Regions from separate parts of the Homo sapiens genome. Here region 2 is linked to region 1. The links come from fine-mapping of genetic effects on gene expression. A gene starts in region 1. The other region holds a variant in brackets. All regions are shown on one strand. Distances are from middle to middle. Region 1 holds the start of RC3H2 (ring finger and CCCH-type domains 2). Region 2 overlaps RABGAP1 (RAB GTPase activating protein 1).

Region 1 (9,232 bases):
CAGTTCCAAAGTTATGGGAGGCACAGTAAAGCTGATGGGATTCTGTCTCATCTCATACCTTACATATAAGTCTCAGTAGTATCCCTAGAGAAATAGTGTTCCTCTCTTATATATTCTTGATTCTAGTGACAAAGGATCCAGCAGTATTTGCAGATTCCGATTTGGAGTCTCTAGGTAATTGATTTAAGTATAAAATCCAATCATATAAAAACTTTAATGAATTAGGATAACAAGAAGAGAAAATAAAGGTAAAAACACTATTACCTGTTTCTAGTCACTTTAGAACAGATGGCACTAAAAAAATTTTTTTTTAACTTTTTACCAGCTGTTCTTGGATTCCAAACTAAACACCAAGATACTTTTCATTTTAAAATGTATAAAGTAACAATTCAGATTCACTTGGGAATAGCAGAATTTTTTTATACAGGGTTAATAATCCTTAAAATACTTTTATTTCCATGCCTTATTAGTATACATACTTAAGAAATGGTTCATTGGGCCCGAGTTTCTTGATTTTATTTAATACAATCGGATTTAATAATTTTGTGGCCAGTAAAATTATACCATTGGCATGAAGCTGTGAAAAATGAGAAATTCTACCTTTACCAGGGATATCTGTTCTACTGTTTTAAAAGTTCCTCTCTATTTTATTTTTTATTTAACATGAAGTAAAATTGAAATTTCTTCTTGGTGTATAGTTCTGTGAATTTTAACAGAAAGATTTGTGCACCACTACTGCAGTCGGTACAGAACAGTTCCTTCACTCCCAATAGCTCTCTTATGCTGTCCCTTTGTAGTCAGCTCCTTCTAGCTCTAATCCTGGCAACAGTTCTCCGTCACTATTATTTTGCCTTTTCTGGACTGTCATATAAACAGAATCTTATAGTACGTTCCCTCTTGAAATGCTTTTTCACCCAGCATAATGACTTTGAGGTTCATCCATGTCATTTTAAATTTTGAATTGGCAATATATATTCTAGCTGTTACTAGATGAGCAATTTAAAAAGGTGTAGCTATTAGTGTTGTATTTTTTCATTTACATTAATGTAATTTCCATTCACTATGTGTTGATAAAAATCTTAACCATCCCTAGAGTTTTATATTTCCAAAAATATGCCAAAAGGAAAACTATGACTGTATGATTATTTTAGCGAGAGTCATATTTGAGATGGTGTTCTGAGCCATAGTTCTCTAACATCTCCGTCTACATATAACACAAAACTTTTATAAATTATTTTAACAAAGATTAAAATATACTGCAGGGCAAATAATATTCTCTAAAACACAGGAACTGCTTTTCGTAAAGAAGACTGACTAGATGCATCTTTCTTTGAAGCTGTTCTAGTCCTCCTCTAGTTAACTTAGCTTTATGTAGAATTTCTACTGTATTTAATTTCTATTGAAGCCCTTCTGTATTTTAAAATGTAATATACTTTGTACCATTTATAAAAATTGTGTGATGAATGAATCACATGTTCGTTGTTATAAGTGTTAACCTTTTTTTGACAATTTTGTGGGAAAGACATTCTCCACTGAATTTTAACTTTCCTTGAGACTTTCAAGAATGCAGGTCTCGTTTGATGAAAAAACCGACTTCATAACCCAATGTTACTAGTTAGCGACATTGTGCTGAATTTCTCCTTGAACTTTTTAACTTTATATGTAAAATAACTTTGATCTTGGTCATTTGAAAGATCATTTCCAGGTCTAAAATTCCATGATTTTGTATTTAATTCTTCCTGAGAACAGAAGAGGGGAAAGCAAGAGAGGACGGTTTTGTGTCTTTATGAACTTTGTTACTTAAGTACTCCATTGGAGACATAATTTTTCTAATTAGTGGATCTTTTTCCACTGGAAAGTGTGATAGCTCATTGCTAATTTTTCATTCATAGTTCATTGCTTCCATTTGACCTAAGATTGGCCATTTGTTGGTGTGAAAATATTTTCTTTTCAGAAATAGTTTACTAGTGATTGAAGTACTTTTCTTATTTTTGCTTCCTATTATAAAATGGCGTGGGGGGAAGGGGGAAGGATGGAGATGGGAGGAGAGGGTAAAAGAATAGTACTCTGATTTTTTAAGAATTAGTATCTACTATCTTGGATATTTGAAAAAAAATTGGTTGAAACTATGTTTAAGTTTTATGTGTGCCTTGTAAGATTGTTGTAAAATTTTTTGTGAGCACTTTGAGATTTTTGCTGGGGGAGGGGTGTTTTGTGAAAGTGATGGTTATTATTTATATTATTTATTCCTGTTCAGTAGCACGGAATGATCTCCAAACATTCCTAGGAGAGTGTCTGTTTGCATGATATGTCTAAAAATTTTCAGGAAAATGGAATCTTTTTTTAAAGTTCAGGTATGACAAAGTATAGAATTTATTCATTTAACATATTCACATTTAGTTTATGTTTCTGATATGACAGAAAAATGAAAAGTGTTTGAGTTCAGCCTCTTCATTTACTCCATTTACATATAAAAGATCTTGAAAAGGTAGTTGTTACTTCGTTGTCAGAGAAAAACACTTGCCCTTTTTCCTGGGATGTAACTATCTTACATGTTTACATAAGAAATAATAAACTGGAGGTGGGAATGGAGAACAATGTGTTTTGTCTTCATCTTTGAATTTTAAAGGATACAATTTAAAGGATACAATTTCTCCTGACTATACATTAATCATTCATCTAGCAAATACTTCCTGAGTCCTTACAATGAAATATAAGTTAGGTATACAGACAAAAATTCCTGCTCTTGTGAAACATCTTAGTGAAGGGAGACAAACAGTAAACAAGTAAGTAAAATCCATGTATGTCAAATTTTGAGAAGGAATTTGGAGAAAAATCAGGAATAGGGAGTACCAGAGAAGGGGGATGGAATTGCAATTTTAAATATGGTGGTCAGCGCCGGGCGCCGAGGCTCAGGCCTGTAATCCTAACACTTAGGGAGGCCGAGGCTGGCAGATCACTTGAGGTCAGGAGTTTGAGACAAGCCTGGCCAACCTGATGAAAACCCTTCACTAAAAATACAAAAATTAGCCGGGCATGGTAGCGCTTGCCTGTAATCCCAGCTACTCGGGAGTCTGAGACAGGAGAATCCGTTGAACCTGGGAGGCAGAGGTTGCAGTAAGCCAATATCGCACCGCTGCAGTCAGCCTAACTGAGGGAGCAAGACCCCATCTCAAAAATAAATATGGTGACCAGGACACCTTTGAAAAATCTCGGATTATCAGAAATATATATTCTTCTGTCTAGTGAAATGTAAATATATCCAGTAGAATAGAAAAATTTGGCCTGGACTGGTGGCTCACGCCTGCAATCCCAGCACTTTTGGAGGCCGAGGCAGGCGGGTCTTCTGAGGTCAGGAGTTCAAGACCAGCCTGGCCAACATGGTGAAAACCCGTCTCTACAAAAATACAAAAAAGAAATTTAGCCGGGCATGATGACGGGTGCCTGTAATTCCAGCTACTGGGGAGGCTAAGGCAGGAGAATTCCTTGAACCCAGGAGGTGGAGGTTGCAGTGAGCTGAGATCACACCATTGCACTCCAGCCTGTGTGACAGAGTGAGACTCCGTCTCAAAAAAAAAAATATGTACATATATGTATATATAATGTGTATGTTTATATGTGTATATATACTTATATGTATCTATATATGTGTATATATATTTATATGTATGTATATATGTATATATGTGCATATATGTATATATGTGTGTATATATATATATACACAGTAGGGTGGAAAACAAATATGTACATGTAAATTACCTATCACTGTCCAGTTGAAATTACTGAAACAATTATTGGTTGTTAACAGTTCTCTAGGCCTGGCATATGTTTCATAAAGAGAAGAGAACGAAAAAGATAATGTGTGGAAGAAACGTCTTCGATGTGGCCAATGAATCTTTTTTCAAAAACACTGATTTTTGCCTGTCATTCAGACAAATATAATAGGTAATAACTATATATTTTGTTAAAACTGTAGAAGCAACCTTTCCATATTCTAATTTATCGTAGGTTTACTTCGATATTTTTGTTGTTGGGCATCTGATTTCACATTGGAAAGTGCCTTGAGTTTAATTACAAGTCATGGTCATTTTTTTTCTTCTTTTTTTTGTTGAGACGGAGTCTGGCACTGCCCCCCCGCCTGGCTGTAGTGCAATGGCGCGGTCTCGGCTCACTGCAACCTCCGTCTCCCGGGTTCAAGTGATTCTCCTGCCTCAGCCCCCCGAGTAGCTGGGATTACAGGTGCCCGCCACCACACCCGGCTAATTTTTGTATTTTTAGTAGAGCCAGGGTTTCACTATGTTGGCCAGACTGGTCTCTAACTTCTGACCTGGCGGTCCACCCGCTTCGGCCTCCCAAAGTGCTGGTATTACAGGCATCAGCCACCGCGCCCGGCGTCATGGTCATTTTCTAGCCTACATTCTTTAGTTTCTCATCAGTAACAAGGGGTACATTGTATCTGTCTTCTAGGATCACTTTGCTAATTAAATGAAATGTAAATAAAACTAAAATATTTAAAATTAAATATCACCTAACACAGGACCTGCCTGACACATACTAAGTAGTTTATAAATGTTAATTCTGATATCCCTATTCCAAGTCTGTTTCATCTATAAATTATAAACTGTAAGAATAATTCTTACCTTAGTTCGCTGTGTAAAAAGCTTCAACAAATATTTGAGATATGATGCCAGAATTTGTGCTTAAATTTTTTATTTTTGCCAGCTTTTGAGGAGCTCAGAGCTTTCTTCCCCCCCTCCCCCCCCCACTTTGGACTCTTTGTCTAGAAACAGAGTTTTCTCTTTAATAAAGAAGTGAGATGTGGAAGTGCCTGCCAAATACATGTTTTCTTCTTGTTTTTGTAATGGGGAGATTACTTGACATCTTTGTAAAGGGATTGAGGGATCCTGTCGGCATGTCATCACAGGAGTGTGAAGAAGAATGTGACACAGATGTATCAGATTCTGCTCAATGGATTCCACGCTTTTCACGAAGGGAGTTAAGACACTCGCTCAAACCAGCGTCTAGGAAGCCGGCTCAAGGCGCAGATGAATGTGCAGGGAATTTCCCATCAATCCCTTCGGCTTGCCTAGTCCTTCTCACAGTACCTCCCACAGTGCTCCGGGGCTCCCTTGTCACGTGATCGGGGTGGATCCGCTGAGGCAGAGGGAAGTTGATTCGCAGTTTGGGTGGCTGGGGCTACTACGCTTTCCTTCCAACTCCCGACTCCCGGGCTTGCGTAATCTCGCGTTAAGTGGGGAGTAACTTCTCGCGAGAGCTAGATCGGGATCCCTCCAGGTCCGCCTCCGTGGTGAGGAGGAGGAGGAGGAGGAGGCGGAGGTGGAGGGAGGAGGAGGAGGCCCCGTCGCGGCCTTCGCCGCCGCCAACGGGGCTGTCCCTGTAGCTCCCGATGGAGTTTGAGGTCGTGAAACCTCCGCCGAGCTCTGCCCCGGCGAGACGAGGCGCCTCCGTCGCCAAGCCGCGCCGTCGCGGGGCTCCCGGGAGCGGCCCTTAGCGACCCCGCCCGGGCCCCCTCAGGTAGGGCGGGGGCGGGCACGATGCGGCTCGGGCCCCAGCCCGGGTGCCTGGTCCCCGGCGGTCGGGCGGGAGACCAGTCTCAGCCCTGGGGCCTGTGCGCTGTCGCCCCTGGTGCCTCGAGGGTTGGGAACTGAGGGCCGCACCTGACACTCGGATGGAACCCGGGCCCTGCGGAGGCCCCTCTCTCTGGTAGGGCTTTTTCGATGCGGAGCGACCGGCTCAAATGGCCACCTTCCTTCGACACTGGCCGAGCGGACGCCTCTGACCCCTAACGAACCCACCCAAGCAAAGGCCCGGCTTCACTCTCCCTTTTCTACACCAGTTAGTAAGGGGGTTTGGAAGAGGTCCTCGAAACCAAGTCTTCTCCTAGCTTTTCAGCTTTCTGCCCTGGGGCTTCCCGAGACCCTAGCGTAGAGGGTGGTGGAGGCGATCTGAGTGGTAAATAGGAACCCCGGCCAAACAATGCCCTGGGAGGGCTTAACCTCCCAGGATGGGGACGGCCGGACCTGAGTGGTTGCACAGGGGTTGTGGCTAGGAGCAATGGCATGAAACACAGCCAGGAAATTCTGCTATGGCTTTCTTCTTTCCCTCTCTCATTTTTCCTTTTTGGTGTAGCCTCTTGAGGAGACTCTTCCACCATCTTAGAAGAATGGTAGAAAGCATCTTTGTTTCCCAGAGAAGCAGCTGTACTTTTTTCTATCCTTAGCTTTCAGGATGGGAGAAGATGAGGGTAGCTGTCATTTCCATCCTTCAAATCCCAAGGCAGCCGTTTAAGATACCGGCAGATAAATCCTTCACACCAAAATTGACTCAAGTAATCACTGGCATAAAGTAAATCTAATCCAGTGATTTATTTATATTTTCATAACCCTTGGGTTCCCTTTTTAATTCCTCCTCTCCCCTTACCCACGGCCTTCCTTTTTTTCATTTCTACTCTCCCCCTACCCATTGTGGGTGGGTGAGTTTGTATCCCAAATAAAGTGCTTTAAGTAATCTTTTTTCCAATTTTGTATTGGCCAAACTTTTAAGTTCCAGTAGGAACTTTTGGTTAACCTGAGAAAGCTAACGTTGCTATACCACAGTGGTATAAAGTCACTCAAAAGCAAAGAAACAAATGTTAGCCAGTGCAGCCTTTTAATGGTTAAACATACAAACTTAGTTAAAAGCTTTTTACGATATTAAGAATATTAATAGATTCTCCTTTTTAAAAAACCTTTTAGCTGTCTAAAAAGCTATACCACTGTTGTAGCTTCACATGCCTTTCTTACGTTGTTTACTTCCACGTTCAATTTTTGAAGAAATAGAGGTCGTTACATCCTGTTAAAGACTGCTTTTCAATATTGACATTTTCGTTGATTTGGAGATTAATGTTTTCAAAATTTTAGAGTTTGGAAAATTGCTAGGAGGACAGAATGTGAAACATATTCTAGTTACGTTTAGAAAAAGCAGATGTTATAATTCAAACAGGCACTTGTTCTATGAGGATTTAATTACACTCGTGTTCATTAGTGGATCCTTTGAGTTACCCCTGATCTGTTATTTCTGTTGTGGTAACCTGACATGTAAGAAGACTTACGTCCTTTGTTCATATATTTTTGTTAAATCATACTCTGCTTTTGTAATTTGCTGTCTTCCACTTTGAAAAAACCAAAAATTTGCATTTTGGCAAAGCATTCTTCTTTACACTCAGGATTTTATATTCAAAAGTTGAACTTCTACATTGTTTGCAATAGCTAAGAACGCTAAAAAAAACTTCATAACAAGGTTTTAGTAACTACTTACTGTTTAGTTTGTACCGTGTTGAAGTTTCACTTTTTAGTGATGGAAAAAGGAAGCATGGGTAAAATAAAGCTAGCTGAAAATTAAAAATAAGTTCATGTTTTGCATCCAGTCTCATGAATGTTATGATCAGCGTCTCTAATTTTACTAAAGCTTTAAGTGTAAGTGTGAGTTTTACCTCAATTTCCTGATAAAAGTTCTAAGTATTACTTTATAATTTAAATATTCTAGAGTTGCACTGTCCAGTACTAGCCAGTGGCCACATGTGACAGTTGAAGATTTGAAATGTGGCTTCTGTGAATTGAGATGTGCTTTAGGTGTAAAATACCAGATTTCAAAGACTTAGTACCAAGATTTTTTTTAATATCTCAGTAATTTTAATATTGACAACATGTTGAAATGATATTTTGTATAAACTGGGATAAATAAAATATATTACTAAAAATAATTTTAGCTATTTTAACTTTTTTTTTTTTTTTTTTGAGACAGTCTCTCTCTATCACCCATGCTGGAGTGCAGTGGCACCATTCGGGTTCACTGCAACCTCTGCTTCCAGGTTCAAGCAATTCTCATGCCTCAGACTCCTGAGTAGTTGGGATTACAGGAAGGCACCACTACACCAGGCTAATTTTTGTATTTTTAGTAGAGATGGGGTTTTGCCATGTTGACCAGGCTGGTCTGGAACTCATGACCTCAAGTGATCCACCCACCTCCCGCCTCCGCCTCCCAAAGTGCTGGGATTACAGGCGTGAGCCACCACGCCTAGCCTCTTTTAACCTTTTTTAATGTGACTACCAGAAAATTAAAAATTACTCGGATTATAATGGCTCACATATTTCTATCGGATATTACTGTTGTAGATCAGCATTACTCTTCCAAGAAATATGTTAGTGGAATAAAAGTAGATGTATAAAAACCCAAAACTTCCAGATAGATTATCCTGTTACAATCAGAATAATTAAAGAGCTAAGGACTTTGGTAATATGAAGGATGAAGTTATCCATTGGCTATGATTTGATAGGCAGAAGTAAGTTCTATCTCAAAGAAAGTATTTTTCTCGTCATCACTAATATTAGTTATACTTGTTAAAATAGAAAGTTGGCTGGGCGCGGTGGCTCACGCCTGTAATCCCAGCACTTTGGAAGGCTGAGGCGGGTGGATCACCTGAGGTCAGGAGTTCGAGACCAGCCTGACCAACATGGATAAACCCCATCTCTACTAAAATTACAAAAAATTAGCTGGGCCTGGTGGCGCATGCCTGTAATCCCAGCTACTCCGGAGGCTGAGGCAGGAGAATCGCTTGAACCCGGGAGACGGAGGTTGCAGTGAGCCGAGATCGCGCCATTGCACTACAGCCTGGGCAACAAGAGCGAAACTCCGTCTCAAAAAAAAAAAAAAAAAAGAAGTAGTTATCTCATTATTGCCCTATTAGAATGCATTGAGACTGGGCGCCGAGGCTCATGCCTGTAATCCCAGGACTTTGGGAGGCCAAGGTGGGCAGATCACGAGGTCAGGAGTTTGAGATCAGCCTGACCCACAGGTGAAACCCTGTCTCTACTAAAAATACAAAAATTAACCGGGCATGGTGGTGCGCACTTGTAATCCCAGCTACTCAGGAGGCTGAGGCAGGAGAATCGTATGAAACCGGGAGGCGGAGGTTGCAGTGAGCCGAAATCGCACCACCGCACTCCAGCCTAGGCAACAGAGTGAGACTCCTCCATCTCAAAAAAAAAAAAAAAAAAAAGAATGCATTGGAAGTTATATCTAATATTTATTTTAAAACAGTTCAACCACATAGTGTATTTAAGAAGTAAAATTTGAGTCATATATACTTCACACGTTAACGGCAAAATCACATATTATAGCAGTCTTTTAAATTGCAATTCAATTCCTTTTTCTCCAGTACTGAGTTTCT
Region 2 (9,232 bases), 69 kb before region 1:
ACCAAAGATACACAGATGGCAAATAAGCACATAAAAAGAAACTCAACATTACTAGCCATCAGGGAAATAGAAATTATAATAGGATGCCTCTATACCCTTATAAGAATGACTATAGTCTGGGCGCAGTGGTTCATGCCTATAATCCCAGCAATTTAGGAGGCTGAGGCAGGTGGACTGTGTGTCTCTAGGAGTTTGAAACTAGCCTGGGCAACATGGTGAGACCCCGACTCTACAAAAATTTAAAAAATTAGCCAGAAGTACTGGCACACACCTTGGTCTCAGCTACTCAAGAGGCTGAGGTGGGAGGATCACTTGAACCCAGGAGGTTGAGGCTGCAGTGAGATTATGCCACTGAACTCTAGCCTGGGCAACACAGCAAGACCCTGTTTAAAATAAAATAAAATAAAGTAAAATAAAATAAAATAAAATAAAATGAATGACTAAAATTCAAAACAACTCTGACAATAGGAAGGGCTGGCAAGAATAAGGAGCGACTAGAAAACCCTCGTACATTGCTGGTAGGAATGCAAAATGGTCTAGTCATATTATCCATTTTTTATAAAGTTTTATAAGGTTAAACATTACACTTACCATATGACTCACTCTTAGGTATTAGTTACCCAAGAAAAATAAAAACATATGTCTACACAAAAATCTGTTTGCAAATTATTTTTTGAGAGACAGGGTTTTTCTCTGCTGACCAAGCTGCAGGAGAGTGGCACGATCATAGCTCACTGCAGCCTCAAACTTCTGGGCTCAAGCGATCTTCCCATCTCAGCCTCCCAAGTTGCTGAGATTACAGGAATGAGCCACCAATGCCCGGCTGCAAATGTTAATGCATTATTCATAATAGCCAAAAACTGAATACAACCCAAATGTTTATTCACTGGTGAGTAGATTAATAAAAAGATTCTTATAGATCTATAAAATGGAATACTACTAAGCAATAAAAAGGAATAAACTACTAATACACACAATAACATGGACAAATCTCAAAAGCATTATTCTATGTAAAAGAAGCCATACACAAAAAGACTACATACTGTATGACTCCATTTACCTGGCATTCTGGAAAAGACAAAACTATAGGGACAGAAATCAGATCACTGGTTATCAGGGAAGGGGAATAAAGGTATGACTAAATAGATGCACGAGGGGACTTTTGGGAGTAATAAAAGTATTCCCCATCTTGACTGTGCTGGTCGTTACATGAGACTTTACATTTGTTAAAACTCAGGACTGTACAACTAAGAGGGTTGCATTTTATTGGTGTAAATTTTACCTCAAAAAATCTGACCTAAAATAAAACAGAAAAAGTATGATTTCCACAAAAGATGCAATTTGAGAACACAACTGTTCCTTTTTTTCTATGTACCCTACTAAAGGTGCTCATCCAGGATTCTGTCTTTGGCATTAACTTCACGTTATTAGACTCTCCTGTGCCACTGTATGGTATCTACTCCCAACAACAAACAATCTCAAATCTCTATCTACAATCCCTTCCTCAACTGTCTACTGGATAGAGACCTTCAGTTGGATACATCAAACTTATTCTGTCCAAAACTTAAGCCACTGATCCTCTTCCTGCTTTTTTTTTTCTTTTTGAGACACAGTCTCATTCTGCCGCCCAGGTTGAGCAGTACAGTGGCGCAATCTCTGCTCACTGCAACCTCTGCCTCCTGGGTTCAAGCGATTCTCATGTCTCAGCCTCCCGAGTAGCTGAGATTACAGGCATGCGCCATCACGCCCAGCTGATTTTTGTATTTTTGGTAGAGATGGGGTGGGTTTCACCATGTTGGCCAGGCTGGTCTCAAACTCCTGGCCTCAAGTATCTGCCCGCCTTGGCCTCCCTGTTGGGATTAGCAGGCATGAGCCACCGAACCCAGCCCTCCTGCATCCTTTTTTAATCAATGAGTTGCACTACCATTCACTCCATGGCCAAATTAAGAATTACAATCATCCTTGATTTCTCTCATTCCCATATAACTCACAAATCCTATTGACCCTTGTCTGTCCATTTTTCCCTTCTATCTTCTCTGCATAGCTAATACCTTAGGACAACCTCTTTCATTTTACGTAAGCCTACTGCAGTTAGTAGTTTGCCTGCCTTCTTTCTCTCTCTTCTCTTTCACATATGGCCACCATTCAACTTATAATTGCCAGTCTTAGTTGTGATCAAGCACTGCCTTGTTTTTAAATCCTTCCATGGTTCCTCAATGCCCACAAGATAAAGCCCAAATTCATAAGTATATCCTATTAGTCTTTTCACAACTCTGCTCAATCTGCCTTTCCAGTCACTTAGTCACAGCAAACTACTCAACTTTCCCAGGACCCACCATAAACTTTCAAGCACCCATACTTTGTATAGAGTGTTTCCTTTCCTGGAAAGTCATCCTCTCCTCCTGTGTATTCTTTAAGACCAACCTTAAATTCTGTTATCTCCTCTGGGAGATCTTAACCGTTCTAGATAGGATTTAATCACTCCCTCCTCAGGGCTACCATAATATTAGCATATATGTTTATTCTAGCATTGCTACTTGTTTTAGAAAATATTTGTTTAGAGAGTCCCTTGAACCAGACTGGGCAGAGACTGTTTGTTAAATTATCTTTATATCCCCAAAGCTTCAGATAGTGACTGGGACAAAATACACCTGAAATACATATTTACTGAACTGAATGTTACAAATGCAAAGAATGGAAGCCAAAGCAGTATGATTTTATCCTACTTGGATACTGAATATTCTACAAATTTTGGTTTAATTATAGAAAGGAAATCTGAATGACTTTAGCTTTATCTACTAAAATACAAAAACAAAAACAAATACCATCTGTTTTCATTATTCTGAGCAAGTGTCATTAAGGGCTAACATTTACAATAAGAACACTGCAAAGAGCCCAGTGCAAAACACAAACAATATATTTTGAAGTCCAACAAAGACTTCTAATGTAATTTAGCACAAATATGAAGACAAAAAAAGCAAAACAAATATTTATGAATAGTACAACTAAGAATTACATTTAGATTTGTGTTTATTTCCATGTACTCTACATTAAAAGGAACAGTTCTTTAGGAAAGTCCTGAATTGTTAAGGAAAACAATAAACATAAAAAGGCCAATTTAGCATTTAGCAGCTACTGTAAACATATGACATAAACGTTTGCAGGGATGGAGACTGCATGATGAATTGTTTATTCATAATTCTGCTTACATAGCAGGGTGGTACTAAAAAAAACTGGGCCCAGAGTTGTTTTGTGGCACAACTCCAAGAGGCACCCCATTCACAGCACAGATTATCTGAATGGCTCTCACTAGAACTGTAGTGTGCAAAGCCTATGCAACTGAACTTAGTAGCCATACTTGGACTCCCAAGTAAGACATATCTGGCTTTGGGACATTGCTCTGACATTAACTCTGTAACTGAGGGCAAATTAATGTCTGGGAGCCCCAACTGTCTCATCTCTAAAATGAGGATGTTAATATCTATCTCACAGGATTGTTATTAGGGTTTGATAACATTATTGGGCACTTACGTATATTTCAGGCACTGTATCGTGTGGTTTTTACAGAACTATCTCATTTAACTCTCACACCACAGTACCTGCCAAATAGCATCCAATAAGTGTTGGTATTCCTCCACCCCACTCTCAGCTCTTTCTAAAGAAACTCTGATCCACCTATTAGAGTTGAGGTTTGAAAACAATAAACTTAGAAAGCAAGTAGTTCTACTTTTCGTGGCCCAAAGAAACTCTAAGAACACACCTACTATTCATGTACAAAAGCAGCATACTGGAATAACATTTGTCCTTTCTAAATATATCAAATAAGGGCAATATCTTATACGGTAGAATTGGCTACAAGTCTGTTTCCTTGAGAGCAAAATTGCATTTATGGAACCAAAGGACAAAATGTTCCAAAGGCAAAATCCAGAGTCA[T/C]TTCCTGGTCTCAATTTTCTACTTCTAATTTTATAGTCCTTGTTTCCTTTCACTGCAACAATACCAACTTGGCCCCACTTGATTTGCCAGTTATACAAAGCTACTTCAGGCAGTTTGGGATCCTTTTCTGAAGGATATTTAGGCCCTCAAGAAAACATGCTTAGGAAGGGACACTTTGTGCTTGAGAAGTCCCTAGATGATCAGAAAATTAAAGACGAATTCCTGATGATCTACAGTTTCCACTATTTTAATCCTACTGCAGTAAAAACACAAATGAAAATGGTTCAAACTGAGTAATATTGCTGAGCTTCAGTGTAAAAGCTGAGCAATTAAGAAGTATGTATGTTACTTATAACACTAAATAACCTTAGCTGTGTCAGAATACATGACACGAAATAACCAAAAGTCCAATTTGGATATTTGAAGATTTAGTTACTAATCTCAAACCTGCTTACACACTCATTCTGTGATCTTTGTTAAATCAGTAAATTTCTTTATGATTTACTTTATAAACCATGGCTGTTCTGATTATCAGTCTTTTTATCTTACTCTATGAAGGAAGAACCAAACAACATAAAGTTATCATTAGAATTTCTAGTATTACTTTAAAATAAAAAGAGGACGGGAAAGAACAGCAGCTTGTGAATTTATCCTGAAAAGTCAACTGAAGACAGGCCCAAAACATTTACAACTGTTTCACTAAGTAATGGGATTATGGATGGGTTTTATTTTAATTTTTTTATTTTAAAAATAGAGACAGGGTCCCATCATGTTACCTAGGCTGGTCTAGAACTCCTGGGCTCAGGCAATCCTCCTGCCTCCACCTCCCAAAGTGTGTTGGGATTACAGGCATGAGCCACTGCACATGGCCATGGCTGGGTTTTAGTTACTTCTCTTACTGCCTGGTTTTCTATATCAAGCAAACATTATTATAACTAAAAAAAAAAAAAAAAAAAAAAAAAAGACAAAGCCATTTCCATCTTGGGAGGAAAAGAAAAGCAAATACAATCAATTCTTCTACCTACAGTAGTCCTGACTCCATGTTCTTTCAAGCTTCTGGATCTTACCACGTTACAGGCTCACTTGTTTGTACAGGGCACTCTTAATATTTTCTCAACTATCACCTACTACACATAACCTTTCTTTTCTTCTTTAGGCAACAATTACATTCTCACACAGTTCGCTCATACCTAGATTCTAGTACATGATGAATTGTATCATGATGACGTATTTACTGATGTGTCTCCACTGCCACCACCACTATAACCCTCTTAATTAAACTGAGCTCATGTTCAGTAACTTTGCTGAATAAAAGATCTGCATTACAGAGGACAAGATTACCAGGTTCTTTTTTTCTTTTTTTTTTTTGGTTTGAGACGAAGTTTCGCTCGTCGCCCAGGCTGGAGTGCAGTGGCGTGATAGCTCACTGCAACCTCCGCCTCCCGGGTTCAAGCAATTCTCCTGCCTCAGCCTCCGGAGTAGCTGGGATTACAGGTGCATGCCACCACGCCCAGCTAATTTTTGTATTTTTAGTAGAGATGGGGTTTTGCCATGTTGGCCGGGCTTGTCTCAAACTCCTGACCTCAGGTGATCTGCCCGCCTCGGCCTCCCAAAGTGCTGGGATTACAGGCGTGAGCCACCACGTCCAGCAGATTATCAGGTTCTAAAAAAGCAGTATCAGAAACCAAATCAGAAGATTAGTTTCGGCATTACTGAGACAGAGTGACTTTTGTTATCTGCTATTTTAATAAAGTTTGGCAATTTTCTTTCATCTAAATAATGTCAATTAGATTTTTCAAGAAGAAAACTCTATGAGGATTAAAGAGTTTAAAAAATTAACTGATCTGGCCAGGCTCGGTGGCTCATGCCTATAATCCCAGCACTTTGGGAGGCCGAGGCGGGTGGATCACGAGGTCAGATCGAGACCATCCTGGCTAACACGGTGAAACCCCATCTCTACTAAAAATACAAAAAATTAGCCGGGCATGGTGGTGGGCGCCTGTAGTCCCAGCTACTGGGAGGCTGAGGCAGGGGAATGGTGTGAACCCGAGAGGTGGAGCTTGCAGTGAGCAGGGATCATGCCACTGCACTCCAGCCTGGGCAGCAGAGCGAGACTCCGTCTCAAAAGCAAAAAAAAGTAACTGATCTTTCTGCATAAGAAACACTAGTTCATCAATGCATCCCCAACCAGTATTTATAGAGTATCTTTGGGTAAGAGCTAAGATTCCCAACTGAGAGGAACATATAGTCAGTCAGATGGAGAAAATACATGTTCTGCTTTTATGGAAAGTTCTCACATTTTGATATGAGTTGTCAAAACATTTTATTACGAAAAATACCTGCTTATGGATGACTAGGTTAAAAAAAAAAGAAATATACCTCTATGTATTTTTTTTTTTTAATATATAAAGAGATAGGCTCTCACTATATTGCCTAGGCTGGTCTCAACTCCTGAGCTCAACCAATCCTCCCACTTTGGCCTCCCCAAGTGCTGGGATTACAGGTGTGAGCCATCACGCCCGGCCATACCTTTATGTTTTCTATAACCACACCATCACATAATACTTTTATTTAAAGGGCTTACGTAAAGCATTACCAACTCCAAGAAGCCTTCCTTGACCCTTCCCTCAAGCTGAATTAGGTTTCCATCCTCTGTTCTATAGCACCCTTTGCTCATCTACACCACAGCATTCATCTAACTATACTGATGTTGAAAATTAAATACGGCCAGAGAATCTCTACAGCACCTCCAATCAAGAGATATAGCCTATTTACCCAAAACTTTGAATAAGAACTGGACTTGTGACTTGCTTTGAACACGAGAATCCACGTGGTATAATTTCTAACCCACAGCCCCAAGGGCCTTACAGCTGCTACTCCTGTCCTAAGACTACCATGCTGTGAAGAAGCCTAAGACGAGCGACTACATGGAAGGAGACCCAGCCATCCTACTCAAGTCCAGTCCCCACCCGACCCACCAGATGAAGCTGTATGAGCGCAAGATTGGCAAAAACCAACCAGTCAATCCACAAAATCAAGAGAAATAGTTTTAATCCACTGAGTATCGAGGTAATTTGGAGTTTTTTTCTTACCATTTTTATTTTTATTTTTTAAAGAGACAGGGTCGCACTGTTGTTGCCCAGGCTGGTCTTGAACTCCTGGGCTCCAGTGATCCTCCTGCCTCAGCCTCCCAAAGTGCTGGGATTACAGACATGTGCCACTACAATGGGCAGAGGTAATCTGTTACAAAGGAAAGACTAACAGAAAAAAATGTAACAAGATTTTTAATTGTCATCTGCCCTAAGCTATAAGCATCTTAAATACAGGCACCAAGTCCACTTCATCTCTATTCTCATTCAGCCTTGTATTATTTTCTCTCTGGCTATGATGTTCTCCAGTTCTACTATCATTCCACTTGGGACTTACTGTGTTCTTTGAAGCCAATGATTTATATCGTTTATCACTTCTGGAAAATATTCAACTATTATCTCTTCAAGTATTTTCTTCCATCTTCACCATTCTCTTATTATAGAACACTTAAGATGGTTGGTCCTTCTCATCTTAATTTTCATGTCTCTTAAGTGGTCTTTCATATCTTTCAATGCTATCTTCTGGATAATTTCTTCAGATCCATTTTCCAGGTATTTGATTCTCTCTTCAGCCATGTGTAATTTGCTGTTTAACATATCTGCTGCACTTTTAATTTCACTGGCTCTAAATTTAATTGCAGAATTCCAGTTTTAGTTGGCTTAATTTTTACATTTTTTGATATTTTGTTCTTTTTAAATGTTTTCTAATTTTGCTTTAAGTCTTTAATGATTTTAATCATATTTCCCTTAAGGTTATACCTAATAATTCTAATGCCCAAGTTCCAGTGGGATTCAGTTCTGCTGGGGTTTGCTAACTTGCTCATAATAAATAATTCTTTGTATATATTTGTAAATTTTGGATTGTGTGCTCTGCTTTAAGAGGGTTATCTGGGGAAATACCATGTAGCCTGAGTGGCAAGTATGTTCTTCCAGAGTAGTTCTGCAATTGCTTCTGTAAGGTGCCTGGAGTATTATCAATCAAGGAACATACAAGCAGTGTAAATTCAAACTCTAAACATACATGAAGGCAAGCCTGTGGGAATAAATTCCCAGCAAGACCCTCCTCCAAATTAGTGTCCAAGCTAAGAAATGTAAGTTTCCTTATGTTCTTTCCTGTGAAGTACAGGTAGAATTTTTACCCTATCCTTTCAAGTTAGGAAGTAGCCCCTGAGTACACTTTCTGAGGAGATCTCAGCTCCAACACCTCTCTCTCTAAACCCAAGGCCTTACCTCTTGCCCAACGTAGTTATCAAAATCCAAGCACTTTGGTTATAAAGAATAGAAAATTCCTCAGTGCAGACCAAATGTCAGCCCATATGTATAGTTCCAGCTTTCAGTACCCTCTTTGTTTTTGTTCCTTGAAGACTGTCATTACTTTCTTGTAAATACAGCTAGGCAATTAAAAAGCTGTTTGTTACATTTCAGCCAGCTTTCCTAATTATTTTATAATGGAAACTTCTTAGGCTGTGTAGGTTATCATATTTTCAAAAATGGGAATTCCTATCCTGTGATAGTTACTAGCTGTCAAATGACCTTTCAACAAGACACTCAACTGGGACTTTTGGAGTTTTGGGGTGGAATAGTGACAGACTTTTAAAATATGTTTTCCATTGGGTACACATGGACATAAAGATGGGAACAATGGACACTGAGGACTGCAACAGAGGGTAGGAAGGGAAGGAGACAGAGGGATAAGGGTTGAAAAAACTATCTATTGGGTACTGTGCTTACTACCTGGGTGTAATTGTACCCCAAACCTCAGAATCATGTAATATACATTTGTAACAAACCTGTACATGTACCCCCTGAATCTAAAATAAAAGTTTAAAAAAACATTTCTTTTTTAAGACAGGGTATCACTATGTTGCCCAGGCTGAACTGCAGTGGCTATTCACAGGCATGCTTATAGAGCACTGCAGCCTTGAAGTCCTGGCTTTGAGCAATCCTCCTGCATCAGCCTCCTAAGCAGCTGGAACTACAGGTACACACTATCACACCCAACTCATGGTTCCACTTTTATGTTTATGTCCCAAGCATAAATGTTAGCATTAAAACAGAAACAAAGAAAAATTCCAGGACCTGGTATAGTGGCTCATACCTGTAATCCTAGCACAATGGGAGGCTGAGGCAGGTGGACCACTTGAGGCCAAGAGTTCAAGACCAGCCTGGCCAACATGGCAAAACCCCATCTCTACTAAGAAAAAAAAAAA

The links. PIP is the estimated chance that this variant, and not a neighbour inherited with it, causes the effect.
Region 2: its variant is fine-mapped to the expression of RC3H2 in whole blood (INTERVAL, PIP 0.97).

Annotation. Positions count from the first base shown.
Region 1 is chr9:122,901,416-122,910,647 of GRCh38, reverse strand. RC3H2 (ring finger and CCCH-type domains 2) reads left to right here and starts at 5,289. Exons shown (of 21, transcript NM_001100588.3): 1 at 5,289-5,538. It overlaps ZBTB6 (zinc finger and BTB domain containing 6), which reads left to right. Exons shown (of 2, transcript NM_006626.6): 2 at 1-2,592. RefSeq lists a silencer at 5,185-5,834.
Region 2 is chr9:122,970,080-122,979,311 of GRCh38, reverse strand. All of the region lies in intron 2 of RABGAP1 (RAB GTPase activating protein 1), which reads right to left. Among named protein-coding and RNA genes, the nearest start is that of RABGAP1, 34 kb to the right of the region's middle. The variant T/C (reference allele first, on the strand shown) is at 3,934.